Regions from separate parts of the Homo sapiens genome. Here region 1 is linked to region 2. The links come from fine-mapping of genetic effects on gene expression. A gene starts in region 2. The other region holds a variant in brackets. All regions are shown on one strand. Distances are between the middles of the regions. Region 1 holds the start of LOC105372485 (a long non-coding RNA gene). Region 2 holds the start of ZNF446 (zinc finger protein 446).

What was found. PIP is the estimated chance that this variant, and not a neighbour inherited with it, causes the effect.
Region 1: its variant is the best candidate, but not a certain one, in a credible set for the expression of ZNF446 in whole blood (TOPMed, PIP 0.51).

The regions. Positions count from the first base shown.
Region 1 is chr19:58,499,113-58,504,337 of GRCh38, reverse strand. It overlaps SLC27A5 (solute carrier family 27 member 5), which reads left to right. Exons shown (of 10, transcript NM_012254.3): 4 at 2,928-3,052; 5 at 3,632-3,826; 6 at 3,909-3,999; 7 at 4,648-4,846; 8 at 5,118-5,215. LOC105372485 (a long non-coding RNA gene) reads right to left here and starts at 4,827. Exons shown (of 2, transcript XR_001754024.2): 1 at 3,610-4,827. RefSeq lists enhancers at 4,450-4,659, 4,720-4,779. The variant G/A (reference allele first, on the strand shown) is at 2,634.
Region 2 is chr19:58,473,303-58,478,780 of GRCh38, reverse strand. ZNF446 (zinc finger protein 446) reads right to left here and starts at 2,429. Exons shown (of 7, transcript NM_017908.4): 1 at 2,277-2,429; 2 at 1,221-1,602; 3 at 955-1,144; 4 at 600-694. The coding sequence starts at 1,562. ZNF324 (zinc finger protein 324) reads right to left here. Exons shown (of 4, transcript NM_014347.3): 4 at 3,345-5,478. RefSeq lists enhancers at 2,171-2,370, 2,525-2,819, 2,641-2,890, 3,131-3,190, 3,251-3,340.

The DNA of each region.
Region 1 (5,225 bases), 26 kb before region 2:
GAGCAAATCCTAGACACTGCATCTTTATGCTTGTAAATATTGCAGTACATATCTCTAACATATAAGCACTGAAGAAACTGTAACCAAAGTGATTATTACACGTAACAACATTAATATCATATGATGTCCTTAATATCATATGATGTAACCCCTTAATATCATATGATGTCCAGTCTATGTTCAGATTTCTCCAATGGGCTGTTTTGGTTTGGTTTTGTTTTTAGAGACAGAGTCTTGCTTTGTCACCCAGGCTGGAGTACAGTTGTGTGATGTTGGCTCACTACAACCTCTGCCTCCTGGGTTCAAACGATTCTCATGCCTCATCCTCCTGAGCAGTTGTGATTACAGGTGTGGACCACCATGCCCAGCTAATTTTTTTGTATTTTTAGTAAAGACAGGGTTTCGCCCTGTTGGCCAGTCTGGTCTTGAACTTCTGGCCTCAAGTGATCTGAACACGTTGGCCTCCCAAAGTGCTGAGATTACAGGTGTGAGCTACTGTGCCCAGCCAATTGGCTGTTTTTTTGTTTGTTTGTTTGTTTGTTTGTTTTTAACAATTAAACAGTCTCCCCATTGTATTTGCTTGTAGGTCTCTGTTCCCCTTTCATCTGCATTTCTTGTTAAATTGGAAACTTTAACTAGAGGTGTTGTTAGATTCAGTTTTTTTCTTTTTCTTTTGAGACAGGGTCTCACTCTGTCACCCAGGCTGGAGTGCAGTGGTGTAAGCTCGGCTCACTACAGCCTCCCCCTCCTGGGTTCAAGCGATTCTTCCACCTCAGCCTCCCGAGTAGCTGGGACTACAGGTGTGCGCCACCACGCCTGGCTAATTTTTGCATTTTTTGGTAGAGATAGGGTTTCACCATGTTGGCTAGGCTGGTCTCAAACTCCTGATCTTTCAGGTGATCCACCCCCCTCAGCCTCCCAAAGTGTTGGGATAACAGGTGTGAGCCACCACGCCCAGCCCCCTATATCTTATTAATCCATGTGTCCATACGTCAATACAACCATACAAACATTCACCAACCCACCCATCTACCTACTCACCTACTTCCTCACTCATTCATTCATTCATCCACCCACCCATCTATCCATCCTTACACCTATCCATCTTTCTCTTTTTCTTTTTTTTTTTTTTTAAGACAGAGTCTCACTCTGTCGCCCAGGCTGGAGTGCAGTGGCGCTATCTCGGCTCACTGCAAGCTCCGCCTCCCAGGTTCACGCCATTCTCCTGCCTCAGCCTCCCGAGTAGCTGGGACTACAGGCGCCCGCTACCACGCCCAGCTAATTTTTTGTATTTTCAGTAGAGACGGGTTTCACCGTGTTAGCCAGGATGGTCTTGATCTCCTGACCTCGTGATCCGCCCACCTCGGCCTCCCTAAGTCCTGGGATTACAGGCGTGACGATCCTCACCCAGCCACCTATCCATCTTTCTACCCCCCTGCCTCTGCATGTCACTGTCCAGCCATCCATCTACTCACTCACTACTCTAACTGTCCACCCATCCATCTACTCACTCACTACTCTAACTGTCCAGCCATCCATCTACTCACTCACTACTCTAACTGTCCACCCATCCATCTACTCACTCACTACTCTAACTGTCCACCCATCCATCTACTCACTCACTACTCTAACTGTCCACCCATCCATCTACTCACTCACTACTCTAACTGTTCACCCATCCATCTTCTCACTCACTACTCTGTCCACACATCCATCTTCTCACTCACTACTCTGTCCACCCATCCATCTACTCACTCACTACTCTAACTGTCCACCCATCCATCCACTCACTCACTACTCTAACTGTTCACCCATCCATCTTCTCACTCACTACTGTAACTGTTCACCCATCCATCTACTCACTCACTACTCTGTTCACCCATCCATCTTCTCACTCACTACTCTAACTGTCCACACATCCATCTTCTCACTCACTACTCTGTCCACCCATCCATCTACTCACTCACTACTCTAACTGTCCACCCATCCATCCACTCACTCACTACTCTAACTGTTCACCCATCCATCTTCTCACTCACTACTCTAACTGTTCACCCATCCATCTACTCACTCACTACTCTGTCACCCATCCATCTACTCACTCACTACTCTAACTGTCCACCCATCCATCTACTCACTCACTACTCTAACTGTTCACCCATCCATCTACTCACTCACTACTCTGTCCACCCACCCATCTACTCACTCACTACTCTAACTGTCCATCCATTCATCTTTCCATCCATCCACCATATCCATCCACCTGCCCACCCATCTGCTTAGCTGGGCATTCATTTATCGTAATCAAGAGTGATTTGAGCTTCGAGTCAGTGACAAGCCAAAATAAAAATTAAAAATGTGGCTGGGCACAGAGGCTCATGCCTGTAATCACAGCACTTTGGAGGCCGAGGCGGGTGGATCACCTGAAAGGTCAGGAGTTCAAGACCAGCCTGGCCAACATGGTGAAACCCCGTCTGTACTTAAAAAAGTACAAAAATTAGCCAGCTGTGGTGGCGGGTGCTTGTAATCCCAGCAACTCAGAAAGCTGAGGCAGGAGAATCGCTTGAACCCGGGAGGGAGAGGTTGCAGTGAGCGGAGATTGCACCACTGCACTCCAGCCTGGGCAACAGAGC[G/A]AGACTCCGTCTCAAAAATAAAAATAAAAAATTTAATATTTACAGCCCTTATTTAGCATTGCTCACTTTATAACAGGCACGGAGCTTTCCCGGCATCCTGGAGACAGGATTTGAACCCAGGCCTGCCTATGCTCTTCTAGTGAGAGCAGTCCTGGCTGGGCCAAGGACACAAAGATGAACTCAGTATTGTCCTGTATTTCAGGGTGTGGGGGTGGGTGAGCACAGGTGCTAAAAGCAGCTTCTTACAACAATTTGGAAGCATGACCTGAAACCCCCTCTCCTGTCATCTCCCAGGAGCCACCTGTGTTCTGGCCCCCAAGTTCTCTACTTCCTGCTTCTGGGATGACTGTCGGCAGCATGGCGTGACAGTGATCCTGTATGTGGGCGAGCTCCTGCGGTACTTGTGTAACATTCCCCAGGTGAGGCTCTAAGATTAGGGCTCCATGGTGAACACCCAAGTATGAAATCCCAGGTAAAGGTCTCAGGTAAAGATTCAGGTACTGAACTCAAGTCCCTCAGATAATACACCTCATGCAAGAACCCCAGATAATGAGTTTCAGACAAGGCTTCCAATAATGGTTTCTTTGATAGCTGTGCTACCTTGAGCCTCAGTGTCCTCATTTGGAAAACAGGGATAATAGCCCCTACCCCTATCATGAGAATTTCCATTAAAAATTAATTAATTAAAATTAAATTTCCATTAAATTAAAGTTCTAGGTAACTACTCTTAGGTGAGACCCCAGATGAGGCCTCCAGTCACCTCTGGTAACGTCCCCCAGGCAAAGCTCTGAGGTCGCCCCTGCAGGTAACCCTCTATTTAAGACTCCAGTAACTACTCTCATGTAAGTAACCCAGGTAGATCCCTTAGGTAGAGGTCCCCCATCACCTTCCAGGTAACTCCCAAGGTAAGGACCCAGGATAACACCCCCTCTAGGTAAAGGTTCCAAGGCATGCCCCAAGAGCACCTCCTCCTCACCCTTCTGGGGACATTCCTGTAGCAACCAGAGGACCGGACACATACAGTCCGCCTGGCAATGGGCAATGGACTACGGGCTGATGTGTGGGAGACCTTCCAGCAGCGCTTCGGTCCTATTCGGATCTGGGAAGTCTACGGCTCCACAGAAGGCAACATGGGCTTAGTCAACTATGTGGGGCGCTGCGGGGCCCTGGGCAAGATGAGCTGCCTCCTCCGAGTGAGTGTGCGGGTACCTGGTGTGCAGCTGCCCTGAGGCTGAGCCCACAGGACCTATGTCAACACTCCACCCTCCACCCCAGATGCTGTCCCCCTTTGAGCTGGTGCAGTTCGACATGGAGGCGGCGGAGCCTGTGAGGGACAATCAGGGCTTCTGCATCCCTGTAGGGCTAGGTATGGGGGTTGAGGAGCCTTTCCTGGGTGGCAGGGGTGGCGACCCTCAGTCTTCTGCTTGGCTGGAACGAGCTGCTCAAAAGCTTGACGTTGGTGCTCACTAGAGGGGTCTGCAGCCTTCATCTGGACCCTGAGCCAGTGGCCTGCCTTACCACCATCTGGGGCCTCCGCCTCAGCTTCTCGGCTCTGTCCAGCTCCCCTGCCTTGATCTCTTGCTCTGATTTACTGGGTCTCTGGGTGTCCATCTGATTTGTTCTCTTGAGCTTTCTGTGGAAGACGGCATTCCAGCCATTGGTCCCTTGTCCTGTACCTTCTGTTAGTGTCTTCTCCCAGGGCCTTGCAAGGTCCTGGTCATATCTATTCTCACTGCCATTTGTCTGTCCGTCTTCCATCCCTTGTTATCCTTTTCCTGTTTCTCATGGGCTCCCCATACCGCCTTCTCTATACTTCTCTCTCATTTTCTGTGTCGCTTGTCGCAGTCTCTCAAGGTCTCTGAATGTCTCTCTCATCTCTGGATCTCCCTGTCTGTGTCTTTGGGTCTGTCCTTGGCAGGGTGCTGGGTGATGAAGAGTCCACCGTTGTTGAAAACCTCCAGCAGGGGGCTTGGCTGGTGGGCTCCAGGGGTTCTTGTTCCTGCTCCTACCCCAGGGGAGCCGGGGCTGCTGCTGACCAAGGTGGTAAGCCAGCAACCCTTCGTGGGCTACCGCGGCCCCCGAGAGCTGTCGGAACGGAAGCTGGTGCGCAACGTGCGGCAATCGGGCGACGTTTACTACAACACCGGGGACGTACTGGCCATGGACCGCGAAGGCTTCCTCTACTTCCGCGACCGCCTCGGGGACACCTTCCGGTCCGAGGCAGGGTTTCTCGGGGCGGGGCTGGCGCGGGGCCACGGACGCTTTCAGATCCTAGAGGGAGTCAGGCTGAAGAGGCGGGACTTTCCTGTCGTAAGAGGGCGGAACTTGGAGTCAGGACTTCTCACGCGAAGGCGGGGCTTCTCGATTTTCGAGGGGGCGGGGCTGACTGGGCCTCCTGATCCCCAAAAGGGGCGGGGCGGGGGCAAGAGGCGGGGCCTCTCCTTCCCGGGGGCGTGGTCACAAGCGCCGGCTCCCTCCTTGCAGATGGAAGGGCGAGAACGTGTCCACGCACGAGGTGGAGGGCGTGTTGTCGCAGGTGGACTTCTTGCAACAGGTTAACGTGTATGGCGTGTGCGTGCCAGGTGCGGAGGG
Region 2 (5,478 bases):
GCAAACCTCCCAGCTGACTTCTCTGGAGGTGAGGAAGCCAAGCCCACTAGTTCCAGCCACTCTAAACTGGGTTTCCATGGCTTGAGGCCCAAATCCTTTTTTTTTTTTTTGTTTTTGACACACAATTTTGCTCTTGTTGACCAGGCTGGAGCGCAGTGGCACAATCTCGGCTCACTGCATCCTCTGCCTCCTGGGTTCAAGCAATTGTCCTGCCTCACCCTCCCTAGTAGCTGGGATTACAGGCGCCTGCCACCACTTCTGGCTAATTTTTGTATCTTTAGTAGATACAGGGTTTCACCACATTGGTCAGGCTGGTCTCGAGCTCCTGACCTCAGGTGATCCGCTCACCTCAGCCTCCCAAAGTGCTAGGATTACAGGTGTAAGCCACCATGTCCAGCCCCAAATCCTTTTCAATAATAGATCACCAGTCTGTCCCTCTGCCCCAGGTCCTGTGGAGGGGTACAGCTTTTACAGACTCCACTTCTGGGAAGCAAAGAGCCACTAGTCAAGGAGCCTGGAAAACCACCAGGCAGAGGGCAGCCATGGGGACAGTCCCTTCTCACACCTGGGGCCTATACTTCCCACTTGGGGCTGCTCACCTGAATCCTGGGTGGGTGGAAGGATGTGGAGGCTGGTTCTTGGTGTCCATGGTTCCCCTCAGGGGACTGTGCTGCAAGTGGAGGGCTGGAGGGTGCTGAAAAGTGGGGCAGATGGAAGGGTGGTGTCAGGGGCTGCCCACATGAGCCATGGCAGATGAGGAGCTCCTCTGCTGTGTGACATGGCACGTAGCCAGCCCTTGGCTCCTGCCTCCCAGGTCCCCATCCCAGACAGGGACATCCACATTCACTTCAGGAGTCCCAGCCTTGACACACCTCTCCTGGGACTCCCACCCTAGCCAGGAATGTCCACACTTCCTCCAGGAGTCCCTCATCTCTGGTGGGACCCCAACCTCACCCACTTCCTGTCCATCGACATTGGGCTCCTCCTTCACACTGCAGCTGAGCTGGACAGACCCCTCTATTCTGGTGTCCTGGGGACCTTCCCCAGGGGACTCCACTGTCCCTGAGGGGTGGGGGCTCCCAAGTGGTTCCTCTGTCTTCTGGGCTGCAGGGAGCACCTCCTGCTTCAGGACATGGGCTGTGATCTGAGGAGAAGAGGTAGGTCACAATGGCTCTAGCCAGGGTCTATCCCTCCAAGAAGCTGATGCCAGCCACACTCACCCAGCCCAACAGTTGCCCAGGGTCATGCTGCAGTCCTTCGACTAGGGCAGCGGCCTCCTCAGGACTGCCTGGCCGCTGACCGCGCACCCAGGCCTGGATCTCGGGAGGCAGTGTGCCCAGGAACTGCTCCAGCACCAGCATCTCCAGCATCTGCTCCTTGGAGTGTGCCTCAGGCTGCAGCCACTGGCAACACAGCTCACGCAGCCGGGCCAGGGCTTCTCGGGGACCTGCCACCTCCTGGTAGCAGAACCCTCGGAAGCGGAGGCGGGCAGTCTCAGGCTCCTCAAGGGTGGTCTCTGGGTCCATGACGGGCAGGCATGGGGGACCCAGAGGGGATGGCATTCTTGCTCAAGGGGGTGGTCTTGGAATCGTCAAGATGGGCCTACAGAAAAGGAAGGGTCGGAATGTCAGCCAAGAGAATCTGGCCAGGGGAAGGCAGACACCAGGCTCAGCCCAGGGGGCTGAGACCAGGACCAAGTGTACTCTGAGGCCAGAAGAGATAAGGCCAAGAAAGCTTCATGGAAGGAGGAGGGTCACAGGACCCAAACAATGATGGCAAATGAGAGCAGGAGGAAGCCTCAGGGACAAATGCTTGGACGCAAGGTGTCCAGGGAGCTTCCTGGAAATTGCAAACAGTTGGGTCCAGCAGGGGACTGCTGGGAGATGACGCTAAAGAGGTGGAGAAAGACAGTCATCACAGAGTTCCAGCGCCAGGCTGAGGAGCCACAGTGTCTAGCCGAGGTGCGAGGAGAGTGGACCAGGGTGGGCGGGTAGAAGGTGGGGCCAGGCTGTAATGTACGGGGACGAGTCGCCCTCCACAATCTCGGGGAGGTTGACTGGGTGGGACCTCCTTTAGGAATGGCTCTGGGGAGGGGGCACGTGGACATCGTGCTCGCTGACCACAGCGAGCCGTGGGCGACTCACACTGCCGGGGCCCGTGCATGTGAAAACGAAAAGCAAAGGCCAAGAAAAACGGGGCCAAAGCTCCACGTTGCGCGGAGTCGAGGGATGGCCACAGCATCCCGGCCCTGAAGGTCTGCAGTGAAAGACGCCCACCTGGACGGGCCTGAGAGACCAGGCCTGACACCCGGCCTATCCGAGGGATGCTCGAACTTCGGGATCTGTCCCCAAAAGGGGAAGGCAAGAGGGAGGCGTTCCAAGAGGACTTGCCAGGCCCGGCCCCCCGGAACGGCGTTGAGGGTAGGAAAGGCCTGAGCGAAGGCTGAGGTGACGCGCGCGGCCTGTCGGGAAGTGGGCGGGCCCTCCAGGGCGCCGACAGCAGGAGCCGTTCAGGCCCCAGAGGGCGACCCCAAGCCCTCCCACGGGGTGGAAAGGCTGCGCCCACTCTGGCAGCCTGCGCTCACCTCAACCCGGAGCGGTTGCTTGGAGGCCGCTTCCCGGATGTGGCGCCGCACAACGCGGGGCGCCTCAGCCGGGTGTTGCCCCGGCGACGCCGCGCTGACCAATCTCTCGCCTGCACCGAAGGCACCGCCCATGCCCTTTGAACTACATTTCCCATGAGCATCAGCAAGACAGGCGCGACCGTGACCCGCTGACCCGCATTTGCAGCAGCCTCTGACGCCTGAGAGGCGCTCTGTTCCTCTAGGAGGTACGGCAGAGTCCCAGGGTTATATGGTCTCCCTCCGCTCTGAGAGCAGCTCTTCCCGGGTTATAAACTTGCGCGTCTGTACAGTGGGCCGGTTTCTATTGGCAGGTGAGGGGAGGGGGTTTTGCCCAATCAGAGGTGGCGCTTGCTTGGCCCCGCCGCCCCCACGCCATTCCCCGGGCCAGCCCCTAGATAACGCTAGGGCATATCCGCCCGCCTCCAGCTGTTCCCGTGGCAACGTTCAGGAGCGTTGCCTCGACTTCCGAAGAGGCTGGAAGTGGCGGCCCAGTGGTTTCCTAGGTCGAGTAGTTCGCTGGGACTCGCTTCCAAGTGGACCCGGGAGAGGCGGTGGTGTAGAAGACCACCCTGAGCCTGGGCTTTCTCCCGCCAGGAGGGTGCGAGGGCCATCTTTGACCTCTGTTAAGCGCCCTAAGGAGGTACCGACGGTTGTGACCGCAGTCTCTGACGTCTTCAGATGTCAGTCCTACAAAGTCGGGGGTGGAGGTTTCCCTCCAGGCTGATCGGACATGCTCAACCGTTTATTTACCTTTGAATTTGGGGAGCAGAACTAGCCAGGGTGACACTAGTTTCTCCCAATAAGCAGTGTTACAGTTTTCTAAATCTGTGGGGTCAGTTTTGCTTCCACACTTAAAAGTGGCCGAGCCATTACTTAGTCAGTCCTAAATTACACCGCCTGTTTTGGTTTCTTTGGATACCTGGGAATCCCTGCTGCCTGCTCTGGATGAAGAGCAGTGGTCTTGATCACCGATTGGAAGCACCGAGCATGTGCGTGGATGAGACTTGTCAACTCGGAGCTTTCCAACGGCCTCCTCAGGTTGTTTTTGGGGATGAGGTGCTTAGGCCTTTTCTCTGGGACTATGCAGAGTCCCAGAAGGAAAAAAAAACAAAAACTTTCACCCTCCACCATGTGGGGAGAGCACTGGGGCGTTAAGGGCTTCTTCAGTAGTTGTTCCCCAGGCAGCTTTGATATAGGTCTCCCGTCTCTGGGCTGCTGGTTCTCAGCCTTCTGCGGTTCTGGAGTCAGCCTGGTGGGAACTCTCTCCTCTTCGCCAAGTCGCCACGTAGTATTTTGCCTTCCCTAACTTAGTGACAGCTCTCACCCACTTCTAGCTTAGGAATGCCATTGCTCCTGACTCCTCTGTCACCATCCTCATACTTGTGGGTTATGTGTTTTAAATACTCCCCTCTGTGGTTTCAGTGGATTTCTGAGCCCAGTGAGATGCATGTGTTCAGTCTGACCTTTTGACATAGAAGCCCAGGGATACTTTTACAGTCACTACCTATTCAAAATTAAGAGCAGAGGGGGAGGTTGGAGGGAGGTCAGCCGAGGGGCCAAGACCTGCATGGAGGTGGGAGCCTAGGTTGGGGGCCACTGATCAGTCATGGGTTTGGGGAGGGGAAGATTGGAGGAGGGTGGACAAACTGAGGGACAACAGGGGCACAAGCAGACGTGGAAAGGAACTTGATGGAGGGAGGCGGCTGGTGGGAAGACAAGGTAGGGTACTGAGCCCAGCCTAAGGGGTCAGGCGGGCTCAGGGCAGAAACTTCGCTCAAGAAGCGTCTGTCAGAGGCATAGAAATGATTTCACGTGACTCTCTGGGTATCTACTTGTTTGACAGATGCTTTTGCTCCTGACTCCCATGGGCTCCCCAGAAAAGTGCTCTTTCAGGCAGGGAAGGGTTATTGTCTGCATTTCACAGCTCTGCAGACTTACTGGGGGACAATGGTTCAGGGACCTACTGGGATTCTGGTGGCCCAAGTCTTGCAGGCTCCAGGGGAGCTAGGTTCTGTGTGTCTCCACTCCCTGCAGGAACCTGTGAGGTTTCACAGGTGGAAGAGTCTGGCCCCAATATCAAGTGTGTGGGGCCTGGATCTGGGCTCTTTGTGTATAGGGCAGGATAGCTGCAGGATTTTGGAAGCCATGGGATGGAGTGCCCACTGGTTGGAGTCAACCTTGCAGGGTCATCACACATGGCCACACCCTCTATCTCAGCAGCAGAAGGAACACAGCCCTGCCTTGGTTTCTCCACCTACCATCCTCCCATTGCCAGGATCCACCAGGACTCATCTAGCAGGGCTGCTGCTCCAGACAGCCCCACTCTATCCCAGTTCATCCAGCTCCTGGCTACCCCAACCCACCTCTGACCCTGAAAAGGATACAGGTATCCCACTCCCTCCCTGGGCTGCAGACAGGCTGTATCTCTACTCTGTGGCCTCTTGAGGGTACCCAGGTTGAAGCCAAGTCCAGGAACTTCTGTGATGATGACAAACGCTGATGGCATGTCAGGGTATGTTCAATACCATCTGCATTGTATGAGGGTGAAATAGGTGTCAGGTTGCTACCGTTCACACAAATGTTTAAAAAGAAACCTTTATCAGAGAAGCTCTTGAACTGCTATTAAGACTGAACCATGCTCTGGAGTAGGGACAAGAGGCTGTGCTCTGGAGGTCCAAACTGCTGTACAGGAAACTGCAACACCTACTCTGAGTTGCAGATGGTAGTCTTTTTTTTTTTTTTTCCATTAAGGAGAACATGAATTTCCTTGGAGGTGAGGCTCCAGGTAGGGACAGGGCCTGGTCTGCTGAAGGCCACAGGAAGCAAATGGCCCCCAGTCCACCTTTCTGTCCCTG